Homo sapiens: one gene and its partner. The protein of the gene in region 2 interacts with the protein of the main gene of each other region in a pairwise test. Each region holds a gene or a part of one and is shown on either strand. Other genes may lie near its edges.

Region 1 (11,620 bases), on a different chromosome or scaffold from region 2:
ACCAGCAGGGGCTATGTGCCTCCTGACCAGGGGACAGTGGCCAGGGAAGCCGCCTGCACTGACTGCATGGTGCACCCCCAGAACACAGCATGTGGGGGGACAGGCCAGGGCTTTGTACATCAGGGAACAAGGGCTTGAAGGACCCCCGACAGGGCCCTGGGAGGGGCCATAGCGCCACACTGAACCTGGGCACCGTGTCTCGGCACAGGTGTCAGATTTATGGGACTGTTTTCTGAATGTTTAAGCAGCCTGCTTCTTCTGGACTCCTGAGTTTGTAAACTGTGCTTATTTTGCTTTTGCGTTCATCAGTGTAGCAAAGATGTGCTGAGCCCCTCCCGTGGGCCAGTGCCCAGCTGTGCCCGGGCCCCACACACCTGGCAAAAGCTGCGCCCTCCTGGACTCCACCTTGTGCATACAGGCAGTTAAGGAATGCCTTTGCTGACAAAGACTTTTATTTTAGCCTTAGTTTCTCTGGAATTGTTTGTTTTGAGATTGAGTTACTGGTAAATATGGGACCCGGGGTAGGACTGGCTGGCGGCTCTGCATCCTTCCTCCGAGGGGCCCTGGGGAGAAGGGTGTGGGACTGGCCGCGTGGCTGGTTTCTCCCCCATTTCCTGTTGGACCCCTGCCTCATAGTCCCCACGTCTCCCTACCCTAGTCATTGTTTAGAAGATGCTTCTGGAAGGGGCGATACTCTGCACCCTTGTGACCCTGGGCCACGAACAGCAGGGAGGCCTGCACACACGGAGTTAGCATGCAGTGGCTGGACTCAGCGTCTGAAGCCCAGGGCCTGGCAGCGGTAACAGGGAGGGCTGACTGCCAGGTTCCGCTCATATCAGGAGATGAGCACAGCTCCTTACGCCAGACTGCGCAGCGAGTGACGTGACATTTGTTTGCGGCTCTTTTTTCTAGTGACACAAAAGAAGGGAAGCCCGGTGTTGGTGGATTCATGCCCTTCGGGTTCTCTGGTGTCCTGTCGGGGGCAGCGACTTGCTTCTATGCCTTCGTGGGCTTTGACTGCATCGCCACCACAGGTATGTCCGCCAGCCACTGCGGTCCCGGGTCCTCCTGCACCCTGGGCAAACAAGCCAATGCTTGCCATTTCCCTCCTTGCTGGCACGGTCCAGTCGCCGCTCTTTCACACATGAGCAACATGTAGATTTGTAGCTTCCTGCCAAGCCCTCCCACCCCCAAACCATTATCACATCCCCAACTGTCAACACCTGATGAAAGCTGGATCTTGAATAAGGCTAAGGTTCCGCTGTTAGAATGGGATCATAGCTGTGTGGCTGTGGCCTGATTTCATATCTGAGCGTCTTCCGGGAGGAGTGAGGCTATTCACAACATTGTCATCCTGGCGGACTGAATAGGCCAGGCTTCAGTGAGCCTCCCAGATTTTCTCTGCCAAAGGAAACAAGTCTCTTCCTTGGCTGCATCACCACATTCAGGCCGAGAACACTGTTGCAGGGCCATGGGCTGTCTGATGTGTCTTCCTGAGCACCACCCCTCTGCTCCCGGAAGCACAGGAGGCCCCAGTGCCCACAGGGCTGAGTGCTGGAGGGAGGTTTCTCGTAGGGTCACGTGGGTTCCGGGGCACTGAGAGGCCTTGGGTGTCATGTGGGCAGATACACTGCCTCTTGCTGTGTGCCCTCCTCCGCTGACCCCTTGTGCTTCTAGGTGAAGAGGTGAAGAACCCACAGAAGGCCATCCCCGTGGGGATCGTGGCGTCCCTCTTGATCTGCTTCATCGCCTACTTTGGGGTGTCGGCTGCCCTCACGCTCATGATGCCCTACTTCTGCCTGGACAATAACAGCCCCCTGCCCGACGCCTTTAAGCACGTGGGCTGGGAAGGTGCCAAGTACGCAGTGGCCGTGGGCTCCCTCTGCGCTCTTTCCGCCAGGTGAGAGGCCTTTCTGTGGTGGCTGCTCCTAGGGGTGGAACCACCAGCAGGGGTTAGGCTATAGCAGGCCAGGTACAGCCATGCGAGACACACATCGGCTGCCAGCATTCTTTACCCTTGAAATAGACCCAGTACCCAACCCAGCTTTGATCATGTGGCTTTTCCCTTGTTGGCCAGTATTCATCATCCCAAGAGTTGTGTTATTGAGAAGAACCTGAGGCTGGCTTTTCAGCATCATCTGCTTAGCAAGGGACTGGTTCTCTGTCCCTAAATCTGGCCACTGGAACAGGCCCGCTGTTTGAACACCATATTTTGGCCCTCAGTTTAGCTGTCATGCAGAAGCTACTTTGATGAAGGGAATAAGTGCCTTTTAATGAGAAACATTTTCACCAATCGTATTTCCTCTTAGCCTGTATAAACAGAGCTATTTGGTAAATATTGATTTACCACAGGGAAATCTTCATGAATGCAGTGATGCTTGTATTTTCTGTTTGATTCAGCTAGAAATAATTGCAGGAATAAATACAGTTTTCCATCTGTAAAGACTGTACTGGGTCTCATGCTAGTGTATGTTAGATAGATGTTCCCTATTCTTTACCTTAATCCTTATTCACAGTGTGTGCTCTTTCTGGGATTGATTTATTAAATGCCAAGTCTTTTAGCCACAGGCCTCACCCAGCGTGGAGGGACGGCAGCTCTTGGTGAGCTCAGACTCCCTCTCCTCCGTGGTAAACCGAGCATGGCTGGATGTGGTGCCTTTATCCCTTATGAGCCAGGTTCACTCACGCGGTTTGCCTCTCCCCATCTAGTCTTCTAGGTTCCATGTTTCCCATGCCTCGGGTTATCTATGCCATGGCTGAGGATGGACTGCTATTTAAATTCTTAGCCAACGTCAATGATAGGACCAAAACACCAATAATCGCCACATTAGCCTCGGGTGCCGTTGCTGGTGAGTACTAGAACTCATTTCACATGGAAATGTTTTAACAATGGAGTCATTACTCCCTAGGGAGACGTCTTGCGCAGTTCTGGTCTGTGAGTAATCTTAACTGGTCTTTTTAACTCCTGGTTTTTATACTTGGAGCCTGGTTCATTGAAAGTTGACTGACCTTTTGACAAAAGGCAGAGGCCCGTTTGACAGAGGATGGGAGAGAATTTTTGAACAGTTTGCACTCTGGTTTTCATCTCAATGGGCGGAGCTTAGAACACACAGTATTCGAAAACCTTTTCTCCCCATTTCTGGACGTTTCCCTGAGTAGTCAAGGGCAGGCTGACACCTTCCTGCATGACACAGGCCAAGGGAGACCTCGCCAGTACCTGGAAATTCGGCGTCCATTTCTGAATTCTCTGGAAAACAAGTGTCCCTTATGATCAGTGTTTTATGAAATGTGCCGCCTCTTCCCCAGAGAGTATCAAGGGTGCTGCTGATGAAGCCACTTGCCCCTAAGTTTATACGTAATAGCAGACCCAGTGGAGTTTCATCTTGTCAGATGAGCCTCATCGCTGAGAGGACCATTTTGATGGATGAAATCAGTGGACTAATCTGAGCCGTGTAGGTGTTCCAGGGCCCCAGATGAAGGAAAGGAGAACCTACAAGGAAGCTCGTGTGCACACTGTACCTGTGGTCTATGTCTCCTCCTTTCGCGATTGCATTTCATAGCCCCGAGAGGCAGACGCCCGCCCCTTTCGCAATTGCATTTCGTAGCCCCAAAAGGCAGACGTCAGCCCACTGTACAGATGTAGAAGTGGAGGCCCAGGGAGGTGAAGCGAGGATGTGCACCCAGGGCGGTGGAGCGGCCTTGTGATTCCAGGGTTGTTTTTATGCCAAAGTAGCCAAGCTCCTTCCAGAGTCTGAGCAGAGCAGTGGGTCTTTTTGGCAAATTAGGGCATGTGAGATCAGTCACAGTTTCTAACACAGCGACTTGTCAAATAGCCATTGGTAAGGCACTTGACCTTCTTAAATGAATGAATTATTCACTAAGTTTTATTAGCATTTATGCCTTTAGCAAACTGTGCTTAGTTTTGTGGATTAATATTGTATAATAAAACACACCTATTTTTAAATTATGAAACATTTTCTTATGTGATTCTATGCTCTTGAGAGTGACCACAGTGGTCAGATTGAGAGGCACTATACATCAGAATGTGACCAGTATATTTACAGGATTAAGGACTTGGAAATAGTCATTGTTTTCTCAGGCTTTACGTGGAATTTGATCATATTAAAGACTGGCCTTAATTTCCTTCCCCTGCTGATAGAGGGAGATCAAATCATGCTCTTTGAAGTGACTGTAAAGTACATGCCATTCACAAAATCCAGGATTTACCCTTTTCATTTGGTGGGAGTGGTAAATAAGTATTTGGTTTTCTAAAATCACCTCACATGGAAGAAATTAGTCTCAAGTTTCCCGTGAGTAGGAACATCGGCATTTGTGGCATGCACAGTTGGGCGCTGTTCTGATTATCCAAAAGGCCCTCCCTCATTGCTCTTTAATTTTGTGTTTTATTCTCCATTTAAATTTGTTTTAGTTGCAGTGATCTAGAGGGGCTTGAGAGATATTTGTGGAAAAATAATGGCTTTGTGTTTATATTTTAGCTTGTGTTGATTGCATGTGTTTTGAAAATATCCCAAAGCAGATGTAGCCAAGTTGTTTTTTAATGAGTACTTGACATACACACCCATGTGAATAGACACGTATACTCTCACAACGCTCACAAAAGATGTTCAAATAAGGGTGCAGGTTTTAATTCATTTTAAAGGCAAGGGACACAGTGAAGGGGCTGATACTATATTGTTTGAGAACAACTCTTCAGATTTCTTCCACGTGAAGTGACTTCACATGTGAAGAACTCTGCTCTCCTGCCCGCCTGCCTGGGTTAGGACCTCCTGTGAGTCCTCCCAGAGCACCAGACTTGCCCTTCTTTATCACCCAGCACTGTTGTCCACTAATGCCTGTGTCTTGGTGGGGTACACTCAGGAAGGCTGGGGACTGTGGTCTGCCCTGTTCAATAGTGAGTACCTAGAACCCAATGATGGGCACACTCTGACCGGAGCTGGATGGATGGAAGATGGGTAGATGGATAGATGCTGAATGGATGGATGGGTGGATCGGATGGATGAATGGATGGATGGATAGATAGATGGATGAGATGGATGGGAGATGGGCAGATGGATGAGATGGATTGATGGATGGATGGTGAGTGGATGAATGGAAGATAGGTGGACAGATGGATTGATGGAGAATGGATGGACCGATAGGATGGATGATGGATGGATGCACATGAGTCTGTGAATCAGCATGGTCTAGAGGAAGACACACAGGACTCAGAGTCATAAGAACCCAGTTCACATCCTTATACCCTATGCTTGTGAACTGTGTGACCTTAGATGAGTCTCCTAACCTTTGTGAATGTTTATATCTATAATGTAGGGATGGCTTACAAAGTTGCCATTAAAATCACAAGAATGAAGGGATTCTCTATACAAATGTTAATGATGATTACTGTCTGTTGAGGACTGTGTCTGTGATTTAATCACAAGCTTAAAGGGAAGCTTGACTTCCCTTTAAGCTGTGTCTTTCCATGGGAAGGCCAGGGAGGGGGTGGGAGTAAAAGCAGCCCCCTTCGCTGCCCTGGATGGTGGGCGGCAGTGGTGGTCCTGGTTGTCATTGCATGCAGATGGCCCTCCACAGATCCTGGTGTCTGTCTCTTCCCAGCTGTGATGGCCTTCCTCTTTGACCTGAAGGACTTGGTGGACCTCATGTCCATTGGCACTCTCCTGGCTTACTCGTTGGTGGCTGCCTGTGTGTTGGTCTTACGGTATGTATGGCTTTTGGGGGTCTCATGACAGAAATGCAGATGCACCTGGTAGCCTTTTCACAGTTCAGCTATGGTTTATGTGATGAATGAAACTTTTAGGTTGGTGATAGCTCCATTGGGAGCTGCCAAGGAGAGGGGAGGACCTGGGTTGAGAGCCCAGTTAGGAGGACGTCCTTGGCAAGAGTTGGGTGGCCCCTCACCCCCCTCTATCATGTGCCCTCATTTTTATGGCTAAATGTTGGGTGGATAGAGACAGATTCTCGGTCCAACTATTAGGCCAGGATCCTGGGATCAGAAGGTTTGAAGACTGATTGCAACTTGGTTCAGATTCTTGGGACAGAGAGGATTGAGGGCTGCCCTGGTAGGAGTTAGGAAAACCCAAGGCCTGTGAAACCCAGCTCAGCATAATGCTTCTGCAGCTTCGTTGCGCTGTGGCTGGAGGAATGAATCCCATTATGTGGCATGGCGTGCCCTAGGTTGATGTTCAGAGACACTGTGGAGTCAGCTTGTTATAGCCTGGTGGGGGCCAGGCAAGCCTCTCCCAGTCACAGTAAAGCTGCTCTGGGCCTAGGCTTGGTGTCTCGGTGTTCTCACCTGCCTCAGCACCCACTCCCAAAGCACATCCCTGCGCAGCTTCCATCCTGAGAACCTGTGCTCATGGAGACGCTCAGCACTGGTCTCCCCTCAAGAGCCTCCTCATTTCTTTTCAGGGATTCCCACCTGCAAGGCCATTGATTGCATTTCCAAGGTGTTCAGCAGCTGATGCACATAAAACCCGGGCTGAGCCTTAGCAGAAGCTCTTTAGAATCAGCTAAGACTATTGGGGACCCCTTATTCCTCCCAAGGGGCCCAATGCTAGAATATTCTCTGAGGTCTCCCACTTTCTTAATTGACCGAGTGGGGTTGCACAAGTGAATCCATACAAAAATGGTTAATATCTTTATACTCCCTCTTAGAATTGATCATATGCAAAATAATTCATACAGAACTCTGTGTTTCAAAGCTGGTGGAAAAGATTTGCACTCTGTTCATTTCGGGTGGGAAGATAAGGCACCTCATTCAGAATGGATGCTCCACTAGCAGGTAGCTCATGTCTTGGAAATCACGCTGCAGGCTCGGCCCTCCAACAAGCCACATAGAATTATTTACCCTAAGGTACTTGGAGTTTTAAAATAAATTGATCCAATTAAGTCACACAAATAGAATTTCTCAAATCCATCTAGCCTGCAGCCACATTTCTCTGGCTCTCTGTGCCAAATAGGATCCTGGCATTACTGCTTCCTATTTCTCTCCTTCCCTTTTGCTCCCTACAGCAGTAATTTTGTGGGAAGTGGCCTAGTATCTTTAGCATCTGAGGGCCGCTGCCACTTCTCAGAGCAAGAGAGATCCTCTCAGGGTATTCCTCTGGGCTGCTCATGGTGGAGGTCATGTCGCCCCGAAGGAGAGACCATGGAGGATGTTCCCCAGAAGCAACAGCGGGAGGTGGTGTTCCCGGTCTCTCCTCGTCTATCTACAATGCAGCATTTGACTATATCCTTCCCATTTTATACCTTGTGTCCCGGGCAGCTCACTTTGGAGGCTTATTGAGAACTTGAGTTGGTGCACGTCATTTTGCTTGAAGCAGATGTGGCGGTCACGCAATGCCTTTCTTCCCAGGTACCAGCCAGAGCAGCCTAACCTGGTATACCAGATGGCCAGTACTTCCGACGAGTTAGATCCAGCAGACCAAAATGAATTGGCAAGCACCAATGATTCCCAGCTGGGCTTTTTACCAGAGGCAGAGATGTTCTCTTTGAAAACCATACTCTCACCCAAAAACATGGAGCCTTCCAAAATCTCTGGGCTAATTGTGAACATTTCAACCAGCCTCATAGGTAAGAGCTAGCCCTTCCCTGGGGCCTTGCTTGTTGGCATTGCATGGTTTCTAGGCAGTGGAGCTGGAGTTGGGGGAAGGTGCCAGAGAAGATGAGCATCTGTCTTGCTCCTGGACTGGGACATAGTTACTCTGTGTTAACTGTAGTTGTGCCTTCGGAAATGGAGCCTCTCTCTCCACAAGTTTAGGGGAGAACAGTGGATGCCTGTGGGAAATTGGGAAATGGTTGAGTTGCAGCTTGCTGTCTTTTCCTTCCCCCTTAGCTGTTCTCATCATCACCTTCTGCATTGTGACCGTGCTTGGAAGGGAGGCTCTCACCAAAGGGGCGCTGTGGGCAGTCTTTCTGCTCGCAGGGTCTGCCCTCCTCTGTGCCGTGGTCACGGGCGTCATCTGGAGGCAGCCCGAGAGCAAGACCAAGCTCTCATTTAAGGTGAGCAGCTCGGCCTAGGGAAGGAACCCTGGTACACAGACCCTGGCCCTCCTGATGCCTGGCCAGCCCTGCGTGGGCTCAGCCGGGCCTGGGTGCTCCCGAGGAAGGTTTTTGCTAGCCAGCTTCAGGTAAGATGGGGCAGGGGTCCTGAAGGCACAGAGAGGACCAGACCCTGGAAGGAGGCAGCAGCCCTTCTCCCCTGGACGTTTCCCTGAGTAGTCAAGGGCAGGCTGACACCTTCCTGCATGACACAGGCCAAGAGAGACCTCGCCAGTCCCTGGATATTCGGCATCTATTTCTGAATTCTCTGGAAAATAAATGTCCCTTGTGATCAGTGTTTTATGAAATGTGCTGCCTCTTCCCCAGACAGTATCAAGGGTGCTGCTCATGAAGCCACTTGCCCCTAAGTTTATACATAATAGCAGACCCAGTGGAGCAGTCCCTCCGGGGTGGTGGGATGCTTCTCGTAAATGTCTGCTCAAGTTGATGCATGAGTTTTCCAAGCCTTGGAGACGGGCAAGGCTTCTGCATTTTTAGATTACACAAATAATAAAAAAGGTTGTTGACCTTAGAGGTAAAGTGGAGGTCCGTCTTCTAGTCCTTTCTTTAGCAGGAGAATCGCAACAGAGAAAAATGAGAATGGAGTTCATTTGGCCATTCAGAGCTTAGAATCAAATCCCCACCTACTAAGATGTACCCTTGGGTGTGTTTGTGTGTGTGTTTGGGTGCGGGCTGTGTGTGGGGTGTGGGAGTGGGGGTGGGCACTCCCTCTCTCTTCCCCACACTCGCCCGACGGTCCCTGTCACTCTCAGTTGTGCTGCCTTTACTAGACAGTTTTACTGAACTATTGGAACCGGCGCCACTGCCATGGATTGAAGCCACCTCCTGTCTCTTCAGGTTCCCTTCCTGCCAGTGCTCCCCATCCTGAGCATCTTCGTGAACGTCTATCTCATGATGCAGCTGGACCAGGGCACCTGGGTCCGGTTTGCTGTGTGGATGCTGATAGGTATGTGATGCTGCTGCCAGCACGTCCAAGATCCTGGCTTCCCCTGGGGGTCTCCCTTGTTTCAGATTTCATAACAGAATGACGCACATCCAGTCAGCAGCTTTCTCGAAGATAATGCTGAATCCCTGGTAGGCTGTGAGTCCTCTCCTCCCTGTTAGATACTTTTTGTTTCCATTGCTTCTTGTCCAAACTATTTATTCTTTTGGGCAAGACCTTGATATTAACAGGAACAAGGTGATGAGTCTGCTGCAGATAAGGTACCAGTTATTTTCACCCCAGACAGGAAAGTCTGGCCTGTGCCTCCTGGCCCCCTGGCCTGCCCAGCACCAAATTGGTACGGGCACTAGGCCCAGGCAGGGTGGATGTCATGGGCTCCTCTGTGATTGCGTCTTCTCTGTGGAGGGAGAGTGCTTTGGAGCCTATGGGAGATGCCACTAGGGTGGGGAGCTTCCACATGAGATAGATCACCAGGGGTGGGTGCAGCCTGTAGTCCCACGCCTCTGGGCATCTCACCCCAGGGGCTGGAGGGGAGGATCTCATTTCCTTCCCCTCAGCATCTGAGTCATAGTGCTGATAGCCAGGAAAGTGGCCCTGGCCATTGCCCCTCAGGACCATGTCCCTACAGCCTCGCAGCCCTGAGTTTGCATGCTACGGGCAGATGGCTGCTGCCTCATCTCCCAGGGCCCTCGAGGGGTGCTTTTCCTCCAGGAAATACTTTGCGGCCCACTGTCTGCTGGCAGCCGGGTGGGTCCTCATTCCCTGCAAAGTCCAGCCTGTTAGACAGACGTCTCCTAGAGCCTTTCTGAGAAAAAGCTGCTCACAGCTCACTGGCCACTTCCTCCAGGCCTGGTGAAGGCAGAGGGGCGCCTCTTCCCAGCATCCCTGTCAAAGTCCCTGTGTGCAGGAGCCTGAGCTCCTTTCCTGGGCTGTGGGTGGCTGAGTCCTTGCTTTAAGGCCTGTTTTCCTGTGTCAGCCACACAAGGTGGCCCCAGCCCCTGGGCAGGTGGTAAGAAGCATAGGTCCTGGACCCACCCTGGAGTCCCGTGTGCAGGAACAGGCTGTGGACTCCTATGTGAAGTCCATTCCTGGGGCTCAGTGTCTCCTGCAGTCTGACGCTCAGTTATGTGGAGAAATGGGCAGTGGGACTGTCCAGGCTGAGAGCCTGGAGACCTCCAGCACCTGCGGGAAACCCCATCTCCATAGTGCACATTCTCGATACTCTCGTGGCCTCCGGGGGCATCAGGGGGCTAAGCTGAAGGACCCGATGGCCTCTGGTGGCCCTGGCCCAGCTGCTCTGTCTGCTCAGGAAACACCGCAGCATAAGGCCGTCCAGAGGAACGTAGGGCTTTGCCAGATGTCGAAGCAGACAGTGGCCTTCGTGTGGCAGCTGCTCCAGATGTGGAAAGGTCACAGGGGCCGCTGGCTGCGGGCTCATGCCAGGCAGGGGCAGGCCGCCTGAGAGGGTTTGCTGTGGGACCGCCCTGGGCTCTGAGCCCTGCCTGCGGTGGTGCAACCGGCGGTCTGTTCACGCCCGTCTCTGCTGTCGGCCCGCAGGCTTCATCATCTACTTTGGCTATGGCCTGTGGCACAGCGAGGAGGCGTCCCTGGATGCCGACCAAGCAAGGACTCCTGACGGCAACTTGGACCAGTGCAAGTGACGCACAGCCCCGCCCCCCGGAGGTGGCAGCAGCCCCGAGGGACGCCCCCAGAGGACCGGGAGGCACCCCACCCTCCCCACCAGTGCAACAGAAACCACCTGCGTCCACACCCTCACTGCAGCCAAAGGTGCAATTACTTGACCTGCAGCCCCAGCCCACCCTCGGCTCTGCAGCCGGTTCTCCGGGCCCTGGTCACCTCCAGACAGCTGCCTGGCCGGGGCCACTAGGCTGCGGCTGGCCACTGTGTCTCCTCACTTCTCTGAACAAAGCAGTTCCTCCCCTACCAGCTCAGCCCCGAGCTGCCGCAGCCTCAGGCAGAACGGAGGTCACCTTCTCTCCTTATCTTGGGAACCAGGCCTTCCTCCCGGGGACTGTTCTGGGATTGAAATTGTGCATACTCCAAACTTTCGCAGCCATCTTCCCGCTCAGCCCCAGACACCCAGCAATCAAGCCAGATGAGTACCACAAAACAGTGTGTCCCCAGCAGCTCCCCACCCCAGAGCCAAATGACAGTAGTGCACTTAAAAAGGAAAATCAGGCCTGTTGTCCTTCTCCGGTTGCATTCAGATGGGTCATTAGGGCCGGACCCTGCCTGCCCCTTGGCTTCTCAGGGCTTTGCTCTGACACCATGACAGCTGCCCGGGGCTGAGGGCAGCTGGCTCCACTCAAATGAGGAAGAAGGGATCACTCCCATTAGGGCCTGCTTTGCTTATGCATGTGTGTGCACATGCATGTAAACCAGGGACCTTCAGCTCACGGCCTCCAGGCCTGGGCCAGTTCTTGCTGCTCCTGCCGTCTCCCCCGACTGGCTGTGTCCTGAGTAACTGGAACATGAGACAGTATCTGCAGGACTGGCCCCATGGTGGCCGAGTCAGAAGTCTGTTTCCTGTGAGTCGCCACCGTTCACTCAGTCTTGCCCTCCCATGCTTTGGAG
Region 2 (11,620 bases):
CCCCGGCACCCCAGCCCCAGCGCCCCTTCCCCGGCACTCCACTTACCCCTGCGCGGTCCCGGAGCTCCGCCAAGGCCCGGGAAAGTTGGAGAACTCGCTTTGCAAAAAAGACATCCCCTCCAGGCTGCCGCGCCGGGGCTAGGAGGAGCCGCGTTGTGTGGCTTCGCTTTCCTGATGCTCGGGTCAAAAACTGTGACATCCGATAAGACCCAGAACTTATGTTTCCCCCTGATAATTTCCCGCATCCTCTTGCCTGCTTTCACTGCGATGAAAAAGATTTCTGTTCCAAAAGAGAAATTCCTAAAGTTCAAAATTACGTGTTAGAATAATTATTGGGCTACTCGAAAAGGCAGGTTAGTAATTTGGTGTAGTACCTAAAAGAGCAAGTTTCGATCCCTTACTCCAAAAACAAGACATTTAGATATACTGTATTAGTGAATGACTTGAGATGGAAATATTTCAGGAACCATTGCAAGAACAATTTGAACAATCTTGGTTCTATTATTTTTCCTATAGTGGAATTTTGAAAAATTAAATAATCGAAATCCAGGTCCCTTAATTAGGCCCATTAACAGAGAAGTATTTGGCATGCATTTCCTTAAAAAAAAAAATCCCAGTTTTTAATGAATGAAAAAAAAATCACGACTCATTTAGACTGTAAGTGGTGGGAGCTGTTTCCTTTCTCTCCATTTGCAGGTTTTCTCACAGCAGTTTTCAGAGCATCTGATAGGTTTCATCTCGAGGAGTTATCAGAGCCGTGGAGCTCATCCCTGTTCAGTACCAACGGCATTAGTTCTGCTTCGGCTCGAATGCTCCATTGGACACATGTGCTCACAGCTTCGATTATATGTTTCACAATTTAATTTGTATTTTTTGTTGTTGCTTTTTATTTTGGTTTTTGTTTGTTTTTTTGAAATGGAGTCTCACTCTGTTGCCCAGGCTGGAGGGCAGTGGCACAGTCTTGGCTCACTGCAACCTCCACCTCCCGGGTTCAAGTGATTCTCCTGCATTAGCCTCCCGAGTAGCTGGGTTACCGGCATGCCCCACCAAAGCTGGCTAATTTTTGTATTTTTATTAGAGACAGGATTTTGCCATGTTGGCCAGGCTGGTCTTGAACTCCTGACCTCAGGTGATCTACCCGCCTCGACCTCCCAAAATGCTGGGATTACAGGCCTGAGCCACCGTGCCTGGCCTGTTTCAGTTTTGCTTTTTCCTTGTGAAAGCCTTAGGAATTCTTAAATCTTACAAGTTGTAGGAAAAATTACAGATTCCCACTCATAATAGAAGGATGAAGTGGGCCTGTTGCAGAATTTCCAAGTTATTACTTCCTGCAGGTTAATTTTTTTCTAAGACACATAATGAAGTGTAGTTTTCTGTTTCCTTGATTCATTCATTTGAAAGTCTTTTGAGCCTCTCTTTCTTAGAAGCACTGGTTGACTCCAGGTCAGCACTCTCTTAACGTCAGGCCACATTTTGCTTTTCTGAAATATTCCTTGAAGGAACAATGTGGAAGAAACCCACAAATGACAGAATCTCTGGGACCAGTCAGTTCAGCACAGCAGCTGCCTTTTGAGAGGAGACAGTTCTCAGGGCCGTTGGGGGCATGGTTCTTTCTAGTGAGCTAAGTAAAGTGAACTTGCTCCAATGTCGTTATAGACATATGGCACAGGGCTCCTGTTTTGGGGTAGACCTGTCACCCTCTGGACCTCTTCTGGCATTTGACACAACCATAGTTTTGTTGTTGTTATTGTTGTTTTGTTTGTTTGAGACAGAGTCTCACTCTGTCACCCAGGCTGGAGTGCAGTGGTGCAATCTTTGCTCACTGCAACTTCCACCTCCCAGGTTCAAGCGATCCTCCTTTCTCAGCCTCCAAAGGAGCTGGGATTACAGGTGGGTGCCACCACGCCCAGCTAATTTTTGTATTTTTAGTAGAGAGAGGGTTTCTCCATGTTGGCCAGCCTGGTCTCGAACTCCTGACCTCAGGTGATCCACCTGCCTCAGCTTCCCAAAGTCCTGGAATTACAGGTGTGAGCCACTGCTCCCTGCCGACACAACCATAGTTTTTTGCTGGCTTTTTTCCTGGAGAGGGTTTCAGTGTGATCACCACCTTGCCATTCTGCTCTTATCCCCAGTCCCCATCATCCCAAGTTATCTGTACAGCATTAAGCATGAGAAGAATGCTACAGAAATCCAGACGGCCAGGCCAGTGCACACTGCCTCCATCTCAGACAGCTTCCAGAGCATCTTCTCCTATTATGATAACTCGACTATGGTCACCGGGAATGCTACCAGAGACCTGACACTTCATCAGACCGCCACACAGCACATGGTGACCAACGCGTCCGCTGTTCCTTCCGACTGTCCCAGTGAAGACAAAGACCTCCTGAATGAAAACGTGCAAGTTGGTCTGTTGTTTGCCTCGAAAGCCACCGTCCAGCTCATCACCAACCCTTTCATAGGACTACTGACCAACAGGTAGGGCAGACTACTTTAGTCAAAGAGTTTGATATTTGTATCAGTCCTAGCTTATGTCCTTCCTGGAATTCTGCTTCTTACTCATTGGTGAGAGTCTGGAAAATCCATGGTGGGTGAGCTGGGGAAAACCCAGTCCCCTTCCCCTATGTCTCTGTTCCCAGATAACCACAATTTCCTATTCTATTCTCCCTTCTGTTGCTCAACAAGTAAGAAAATATTAAAGAAGACAGAATAAAGAGGACCTCTTCCACCAAGTGGGAGGACTTTGGCCTGTCTAAATGCCAGGTTTCGTAAGTGCATTTGTCAGAATCGCCCTTGGCAGCAGGAACTCTACAGCCACCATGGCTGTCATCCTATTTTATGAGCCATGTGGCCTCCTCTTATCTCCTACCTCAGGCCATGCACTTCTCTGTAGAGAGCCAAGGTGTCTTCTTTTGGAACTGGCATGTTAAAGCCTCTCACAGATACCAGGTAGGGAGTGTGGGAAAAGGTTGGACGCACTGGTGCGCAGATGGAGCTCCGAGTTGATGCCGAGGTCATGGGCTGTGTTCTTCCCTTCTGCTGGCTACGTAGCCACGTCCACGTGCATGAAAGGAAGAGAACTGAGGCTGTTGTCTGGATAATCCAAGCTGCCCAAACTAGCTTCAGATGAATCAGGCTGTTCTAGATTTTTTTGAACCCACATTGTTTGGAATAACTGTTTACTTCTCCATTGTTGGTGAAGTGTTTGTTCTTCTGTAGCTGAGGTGGACCAGTTCTGCCTGGTCCGTGGGGGCTCAAAGCTCAGGACAAGGGCCTTGCAGCTGAGAGGAGGAGGCAGGCCCCCAAGGTGTCAGTGCAAGGAGTGGGAGCTGGTACAGTTAAGTGTTGGTGGTGGGCTGCCAAGTGCGCAGTGTAGCTACCTAGGTGAAAGTTACAAAACACCAGAAATGGTGGGGAGGGGTGTGCCCAGAGTCCTACCTGCAGACCAGGCCCAGAAGCAGGAACAAAGACTAGACTAGAGATGGAAGAGATGGTGGCGAGGAGAGGGTGGAACTAAGGAGGCAGGGGAAACCAGGGCTGGGCTAGGCTGTAAGAGGCCCCAAGTGCTGGGCTGAGAAAGGAGTGGGATTCTGTGTGGGGCAGTTGGGAGCCATTAGAAATTCCAAAGCCAAAAAGAAATGAGTGAATCAAGCACTATTTTAAGCAGGGTAGGTGGGCAGGGAGCAGGGAGAACTTCACATTTCCTCTGCCTTTGGCGTGGGGAGTGGGGCGCAGGACTGGCTGCATAATTTGTGGGTCTCGGTGCAAAATGAAAATGTGTGCCCCACATTCAAACATTATGAAACACTTCAAGGTGGCAGCAGAGCATTAAATCAACCAAGCTCTGAGAGCAGAGCCCTGTGCGACTCTAGGGTTAGGGGCACCGAGAGGTGAGGAAGCCTGGGGTGGTGGCTGGGGCTCAAGGAGGGGATGGCAGATCTGGCCTTCCGCCAGCACAAGCTGCCTTGGACACATGGAGCTTGAGTCGGACAGGAGCACATTCTCAACATCTGCAGTTGAATTTTCTGGATGGAAGGGTGCCATTGAATTGATTTCAACAATCTCAAGCCATGTCCAGCCCTCTAGTCTGTGCAGAGCAATATTCTAAGGCTGCTACATAAAACATGCTAAGCAAATTAACCCAGCGAAGGGCTGACTGTGAGCCCATTAAGAAGGTGACATTCAGTGACTCCTCTGTTCTCAGGAGAAAAACCAAACCGACCTCAGTAGTTGCAGGATTGTTTTCTTTCCTTTTTTCAAGACTAAGAATGCTTCTTAAAATGCATCTGGTATAATTACAGAAAATAGCTCAGGGTTTTGTATTCTGAGAAAGCAAACAGCTCAAATATTGTATGTGAAAATTGAGGACATTATCGTAATAATACCTTGCCAATCACTTGGGTGGAACGTTACTAGCCGTACAGTGTAATACTTAGAAATTCGGCTGAAATGATGTGAGTACTCCAATCTTCCAAACGCAAATGGCAAATGAAAAGCTTTTTTAAAAATCCCATTCTTATTTTTAATGCTTTGCTTATGCCATGGGGAAGAGGCTTGTTTAAAACCAGTGAGCTCTTTCCCCTGTTAAATACTCCAACGGCTTTGAGGCTGTAGCCACACCAGGCTCATGTTTGGGACTTCAAAAACATTATCTTCCATTTTGTGACTTGTGAAATTTAGTCTATTCTCATGGTGAGTAATCCACTTTAGAAATTATCTAGAGCAAAATTGTAATCCCCAACTGTTTTGTCCAGCTACCGAGCAAATTTGAAAATGATTTTCTAGTGCTGCCTGGTAATATGGAAGGACAAACAAATTTTTTTTTCTTTTTTTTTGAGATAGAGTCTTGCTCTGTCACCCAGGCTGGAGTGCAGCAGTGTGATCTTGGCTCACTGCAACCTCCACCTCCTGGGTTCAAGCAATTCACATGTCTCAGTCTCCTCAGTAGCTGGGATTACAGGCGTGCACCACTATGCCTGGCTATTTTTTGTATTTTTTGGTAGAGACGAGGTTTCACCATGTTGGCCAAGCTGGTGTCGAACTCCTGACCTCAGGTGATCTGCCCACCTCGGCCTCCCAAAGTGCTGGGATTACAGGCGTGAGCCACCGCCCTCAGCGAGCAAATAAATTTTCATATTGTGATCCTGATTTGTAATTTGTCTCATAATTTCCAAGCCCAGTAGATATGAATTTGGGGACTGGGCAGCTCTTCTGGACACTCCAAGATTCTGCTTCCCACCGCAGTTCAGATGGATTCAGAGAAGGGACAAATGTGCATTCCATTTGCCTTTAATTGTCTTCAAGGAGTTAACTTGTGAGCCATTGCAAACAGTCTTTTGATGTAAACTGTGCCAATCACATCCTCCATGAGCAAGATGTATGACTCAAGTCTTCAGTGTTGTAAACAAATGTGTTTAAAGGCTTTTTAAAATTGGTTAATATGTTTCTGATTAAAGAGTAGTTAAAAATATGGAGCATCAGAGCTTGCAGAGACTTTTCCTGAAAGCTTTTGGGCCAGTCCTAGCATTTTATAGGCAAAGGAGTTTGCAGTTCAGGAGGAGAAAGCATTTACCACAACAGTGGCAGGACTGTAGCCACATGTTCCGACTGTCCCATTTCAAGCTTTGTTCTTCCCCGCTTCCTGTTCTTCCCACCTGCTTACAATTATACAGCTTGTACCTTTAGCTACTAGAAATAAAGAATGCAGCTCAAAATCTGTCTTTCTTGCACTGACTTGGGCTCTTCCTGGTTGTACCAGGCAGAACTGCTGGAGACCCAGTGAGTTGCTGATTTTGCTACTTTTAATCAATGAGCAGAGAGTTTAGAAAAGATCAGCCTGATTCCTGTGGACATGGAACCTCCCTGGTCCCTGAAATATTCAGTCTTTTTCCAGTCCCTGATGTGAACTGGTCCAGCCTCGTGCATCCCTAAAGATGTGTGGGGAAAGCTTCCTGTAGTCAGGCTGGGCAGAGCTATTCTTTTCCAAAGCTGCTTGTTTTAACTGAAGTGGGACCCACTCTGAATCGAGACATTCTACACCACACCACACCATAACTGGAATCCTCTATTCACAGTCGTGATGGTGCCATGTGTGTGGCTTTTGTGGGTAGGAGTCACAAAATGTAGGCCGCCTGTTTATTTATTTATTTATTTAGACAGGGTCTTGCTCTATTGCCCAGGCTGGAGTGCAGTGGGGCTATCTCGGCTCACTGCAACCTCTACCTCCCAGGTTCAAGCAATTCTCCTGCCTCAGCCTCCTGAGTAGCTGAGACTACATGCCACCATGCCTGGCTAATTTTTTTTGTATTTTAGTAGAGATGGGGTTTCAGCATTTGGCCAGGCTGATCTCGAACTCCTGACCTCAAGTGATCCTCCTGCCTCAGCCTCTCAAAGTGCTGGGATTACAGGCGTGAGCCACCATGCCCGGCCCTGTCTGTTTTTTTTAAATATTCGATAAGTTCTCACACCAAACCCTGAAAATATAGAGTAACAATTCTTGGGTTCATTTAACTGCTAATAGGATGCACATTCTTCCTGTTTCATTTGTTATTCAGATCCTGTATTTCTGCTGAAAATATATGACCAGTTAGGTGGCAAAAACCTTTGATTTGGGTGTGTGTAGTGATGACCTGGCCAATAGCACACTTTCCAAGAAAGCCTGAGGTTGCTGGATTGACCTGATTTCCATGTTGGAACCTCTTGCCTCCTATTTTATAATTTTGGCTGAACTATTCATTTCATGATTGCAGTTGTGTGCAGGTGGTACCAGAAATTATACTAGTGATACTTGGTCATCATTTGGTCTAAGAAGCAAATTTTAGATATATATGTCCATAAGAGGAAAGTTCCAGGCACATGAACAATGGGACAACACGTTTACATTTCTCTCTTCCCTCAGTCAGGTAACGATATGGCATTGTGGTCTTGCTTAGCATAAGGTTGAAATAATAGTTGCATCTTCAGAACCAAAAGATATTCCACACCAAACGACTGGCTTGGGAAAGAGTTAACTTCATTGCTGGGGACCGTTTCCCTTGCTTCCTTCTTAGCTTGTCATTGTCTCAGTGATCTGCTTTTTATCAAGCCAGCGTCAATGGCTTAATTTATTTCCATAGTTACTTAGTATATTTGAAAGCAGTTCTTTTTGCTTGCAAATCTTAGCTAACATCTGAACGACAAGGAGGAAGCCACAGGGCATGAAATCTCTACGAAATCTACCATGGTTTTATTTTATTTTTTTGCTAGCTTCAGCCAGTGGGTCTGAAGTGGGCTGTGTAGGAACAAGCAGTGACCTTTTCAGCTTCTCTATGGACAGGGAAACCGGCTGTTCTGAGAAGAGATCTCCCATCCTGCATGTGGTTAGGATGGTAGGGAGGGCTTGATGAGTCTTTGCTTCTGAAATCAGAGGAAACTGGCTGTGGAATTAGAACATTCCTAGGAGAAGCAAAAGCTCTGTTAAGCTATGTGTCAGAGAACAGGGCTCACGCCCAGGAAAGTGAGAAGTCCGTGCCCCCTGGAATTCTCTGGTAGCTGAAAAAGACAAGCAGAACCTAAGAATTTTGACAAGCGGAATCGAAGAATTTTATTTACTAAATGATTGACAAACCTCCTACTATATCCAGGCAAATTGAAAATATCATTCCATTTACTGACATTCATTTACTGCACACCTTTTAGGAGTGTGTAGGGATCACTGGAAGGGAGCTGTTGTCTCTCGTTGCATCTGGTGATAGTTTGCACCCTTCGGGGCTCTGTAGTCTGTATGCTTCTTGTAATTTACCACGGTAGAGGAAACTGTGGTTTTAGCAATCATGAGAAGAGAGCTTCCATTAGTCTCTATGGCAAGGATAAGCTAATTATTAACACTAGAGAAGTATTGTCTTCATTGACCATTTAGGGACAGATGGGGTTTCTCCAATGACTAAGTATATATAATTAACATAACTTTTATTGTTTTACATGTTTTTCTAGGGATTCATTATGTGATTTTTAGTCTTACTCAAATTGGATTAACTGCTTCGTGATGCTCTGTAGAGGATGACCGTGGGCCAGTATGACATTTGGCTAAAGGTTTGCTGAATCAGATCTGGCTCTGCTTAGCAATACTTTAATTGAGAAGGCCCTGAATTGAGACAAGGGGGGCAACTCAGACACAGATTGTGACTAATGTCAGTTGAGTTTCTGTCTGTTTAGGAGATACTGTGGGGAAGCAGAAAGGGTTTGGTCCTTCTGCCCACCACTCAATGACTAGGGACGCTGGACGACTCTCCTTCTATGGTGGGTGCCCGAGGGGCCAGAAGAGTTTGAGAACGGAGACCCAGGAGCTTCCCAGGGAGTCTTCTTTGCCTTGAAGCCGAGCTCTGGGGAAAAATGATGCCCAGCGCTTACCACTGAGCAGCCCATGCAGTGGCTTGGCCTGTGTTGAAAGTGCAGGCACAGGTGTGTCCGGTACTGAGGAGGCGGCAACATGAGCCTGGTTGTATCTGAAGCCATTGGCTTGCTCTGCAGCCATGGGTGAGCCACTCTGTCTCTGAACCTCAGCTTTCTCATCTAAGGTGAGGGTTTGGACTGGCTAGCCCTTGAGTTTCCTTCTAGCTGTGATATTCGTTTATTCCATACGTGCATTGTTAAAATCCCAAAGAAAATTAAAAAGAAAAACAGTAGCTGCAGTGTTTCTAAAGAAAACACAGTACCTCAAATGGTAAAAAGAACCCTCTGTAGGCACAAACGCTGTGGTTTTCAGTGAAACTGTGCACTCTCCATCCCATGTGCTCCAGCGTCCCCACCCAGGTGCACATCAGCAGGGCCTAGCACATGTTAACACACTCAGGGTATGCCCGTAGCCTTGAATTTGGGGCAAGTAATTCACCTCCCCGAGCCTCAGTGTTGATCCTCTGAAAAATGGATAAAACCAGCTACCCTCCCTTGGAATCTCAGGCCACCCAGCATGCTGGTTCCCTGCCTACAGTCGTGGGAATGTCTGAGTCTTCAGGTAGGGAGGGACCTCAGTGGCTTCCAGCCCACCACAGCTGTGCCCTGATGGGTTACCTGGAATACTGGCTGGACTGAACAGTGGGCACAGTATGGCTGGTGGTTTGGGGGCCACAGACAAGGGTTGCCACATTTTATTGAGTTTTGTCCTGAAACCACCCAGTGTTTCTGCCTACAGTCTGGGAAAGGGCCACAGATGTCTTATTTGCCTTCAGGGATGTCCCTGCAGCCTGAAGGGTTCCATATTAGAGCCTTATAAATAGCCAAAATGAAGAACTGGTGAAACAAGAGTGAAGCCCCTAATTCCAATAGCTTTGATACGTATTGGTACTTCAACAACTAGATTTTCCAAATATATATTGAACAGAGGGAGAAGCCTGTGTTTATTCCAGGACAGCCCGGAAGATTGTCATATGCCCGTTCTTTCATGGGACAAACTGTAGTTGCTGAAAATAAATTGCCTGTGAGTTCTCCTCTCTGAGCCTCCTGGACGTTTCCTGATTCAGTATCCTGCAGTGCCGTGTGAGCCCCCGGTGTTGGGTTTCTTTTGTCCACATGAATAAGGGGTACAGAGAATCAGCTCTGGGTGGGCTGAGACAGAAGAAGCTGTCACCCGATGGCCATCTGAACTGCAGGTCAGAATCCTGGCATCTTCTCTGGTTTACCCAATTTGCTTGGGGCCCCACTTTGTGAATTACAAGCTCATCTCTGTTCACAGCAGGGGAATCTTTGCATGGTTTGTGGGAGGGGACTGACTGTCTGGGAATCTGTCATGCTTGTGAGTTACTCTCTGTATTTTTGGTATTTGGTTTCTGGATACAGGTGAAGCAGTTAAAAAATATTTGAATATGGTCAAGAGAACTTTTGGAAAGATTCTATTTAAAGCTATATATGCCGTTTGGGTACTGGCGGAGGTGGTAAAATTTACAAGGAAAAGCCATGTGGGAATGGCCCAGGCGAAATTAGTCTGATGACATCTGATAAGTAATGACAGATATCATGCCTCAGTTTCCTCATCTGTAACATAGGGAGGTGAAATAGGGCCCTTATTAAATCATGACTAAATCTGGTGGGTGTAAATGCTTGGAGAACTGAGTGTAAACTTTAAATGAAGGCGCTATGATTATTTTTTATTTATTTATTTACTTTTGAGACAGAATCTCGCTCTGTCACCCAGGCTGGAGTGCAGTGGCATGATCTCAGCGCACTACATCCTCTGCCTTCTAGGTTTAAGCAATTCTCGTGCCTCAGCCTCCCAAGTAGTTGGGATTACAGGTGTGCACTACTATGCCTGACTCATTTTTTGTATTTTTTTTTTTTTTTTTTTTTTTTTTTTTAGTACAGACAGGGTTTTGCCATGTTGCCCAGGCTGGTCTTGAACTCCTGAGCTCAGGTGATCCGCCCACCTCGGCCTCCCAAAGTGCCAGGATTACAGGCATGAGCCATCATGCTCAGCCGATTACAATTTTTTATTAAAGCCTGGAATGGAAGAACCCTTCCAGGCTGTTGCCAGAGCTCAGGATGCTTGGCCCTTCTGCCTTCCTGGATTCATTTCATTCCTCTCCAGGTTCCTGAGGGTCCAGAGCTAGAGACAGAAGAGACTTAGAGATGTTTCAGGCTCTTCTGGGTTGGAGCAAACCTTCAATTGGGCAAGAGCTCAGCCACTGTTGGCTTCCTCTCAAGGCAGAGGGGCTGGGAAGCTGCCTGTACCCTCATGCCCCACCCACAGAGCAGGGACCCAGCTGTCTACTTAATCCAGCAGAAACAGAGGACAAAGAAGAAAGAGAATGAGGGAGGAGATGACATTTCTTAGGCACCTTCTATGCTCTAGGCACTGGTGTTAACAGTTTAACATCCATATCTCTTTCTGTACTCCAGTCCTGGGAGGTGGGCGGTGGTCTCTCCGAGGGACTGAGAGGAGACCTCCCTAGATTAAGTGGCAGGGTCATGTGTCCAGCCAGACATGGCATAGGGGAATGCCAGGGTCTTTCCACCAGCCCTGTTGACCTGGCGCCAGAGTCCTAGGTGAGCAGTGGTCTCACGGAGCAATTTGGATTTTGAAATTTTGCACAGAAAATGAGACTTTGTCTTTCTGGGTTGGCCTCATGGGGTCAACAGGAAGGCAGATCTTAACATCTTGCTTCCTAATGCCTCTTAGACATACTGCAGTCTGCCAGTGGAATCACTTGATGGCCTTTTACCCGAATCATTTGATTGCAGTGGCTCCTTTGGGAGAGCTTTAGCAAAGACTATAATTAAAGGAATCATTTTTTAAAAATGACAGAAATAGGGGCCGTGTATTTTGGATGTGTTCTGGGTTACTTGCCAATATTGTGTTAACATTTATTCCAAACAAATTTCTGTTCACAGTGGCAGTCCATAAATGTATTCACGTTCCAAGACAGTCAAACACAAAAAGGTCACATAGGAAGCACTGAGTATATGAATTTTCAGAAAAGTCCACCAAACACTTATCTGTCTGATCCCAAAGGGTAGCCAGGCGAAAATCAATATAAAGCCTTAAAAAAATAGCCTGCAGTCACCAGATTTGTCTGATGTTTGTGTTTTGCAGAATTGGCTATCCAATTCCCATATTTGCGGGATTCTGCATCATGTTTGTCTCAACAATTAG

The links.
Region 1: the proteins of SLC18A2 (region 2) and SLC7A1 interact in binary tests that used the Homo sapiens proteins (3 or more experiments, as listed by UniProt).

The regions. Positions count from the first base shown.
Region 1 is NC_000013.11:29,513,546-29,525,165, reverse strand, and holds part of SLC7A1 (high affinity cationic amino acid transporter 1), read left to right. Parts: intron 1-912; coding exon 913-1,034; intron 1,035-1,677; coding exon 1,678-1,900; intron 1,901-2,709; coding exon 2,710-2,849; intron 2,850-5,616; coding exon 5,617-5,719; intron 5,720-7,375; coding exon 7,376-7,593; intron 7,594-7,855; coding exon 7,856-8,022; intron 8,023-8,919; coding exon 8,920-9,028; intron 9,029-10,582; coding exon 10,583-10,686; 3' UTR 10,687-11,620. UniProt on the Homo sapiens protein: High-affinity, low capacity permease involved in the transport of the cationic amino acids (arginine, lysine and ornithine) in non-hepatic tissues.
Region 2 is NC_000010.11:117,241,839-117,253,458, forward strand, and holds part of SLC18A2 (synaptic vesicular amine transporter), read left to right. Parts: intron 1-46; exon of another isoform or gene 47-159; intron 160-2,132; coding exon 2,133-2,475; intron 2,476-11,560; coding exon 11,561-11,619; intron 11,620-11,620. UniProt on the Homo sapiens protein: Electrogenic antiporter that exchanges one cationic monoamine with two intravesicular protons across the membrane of secretory and synaptic vesicles.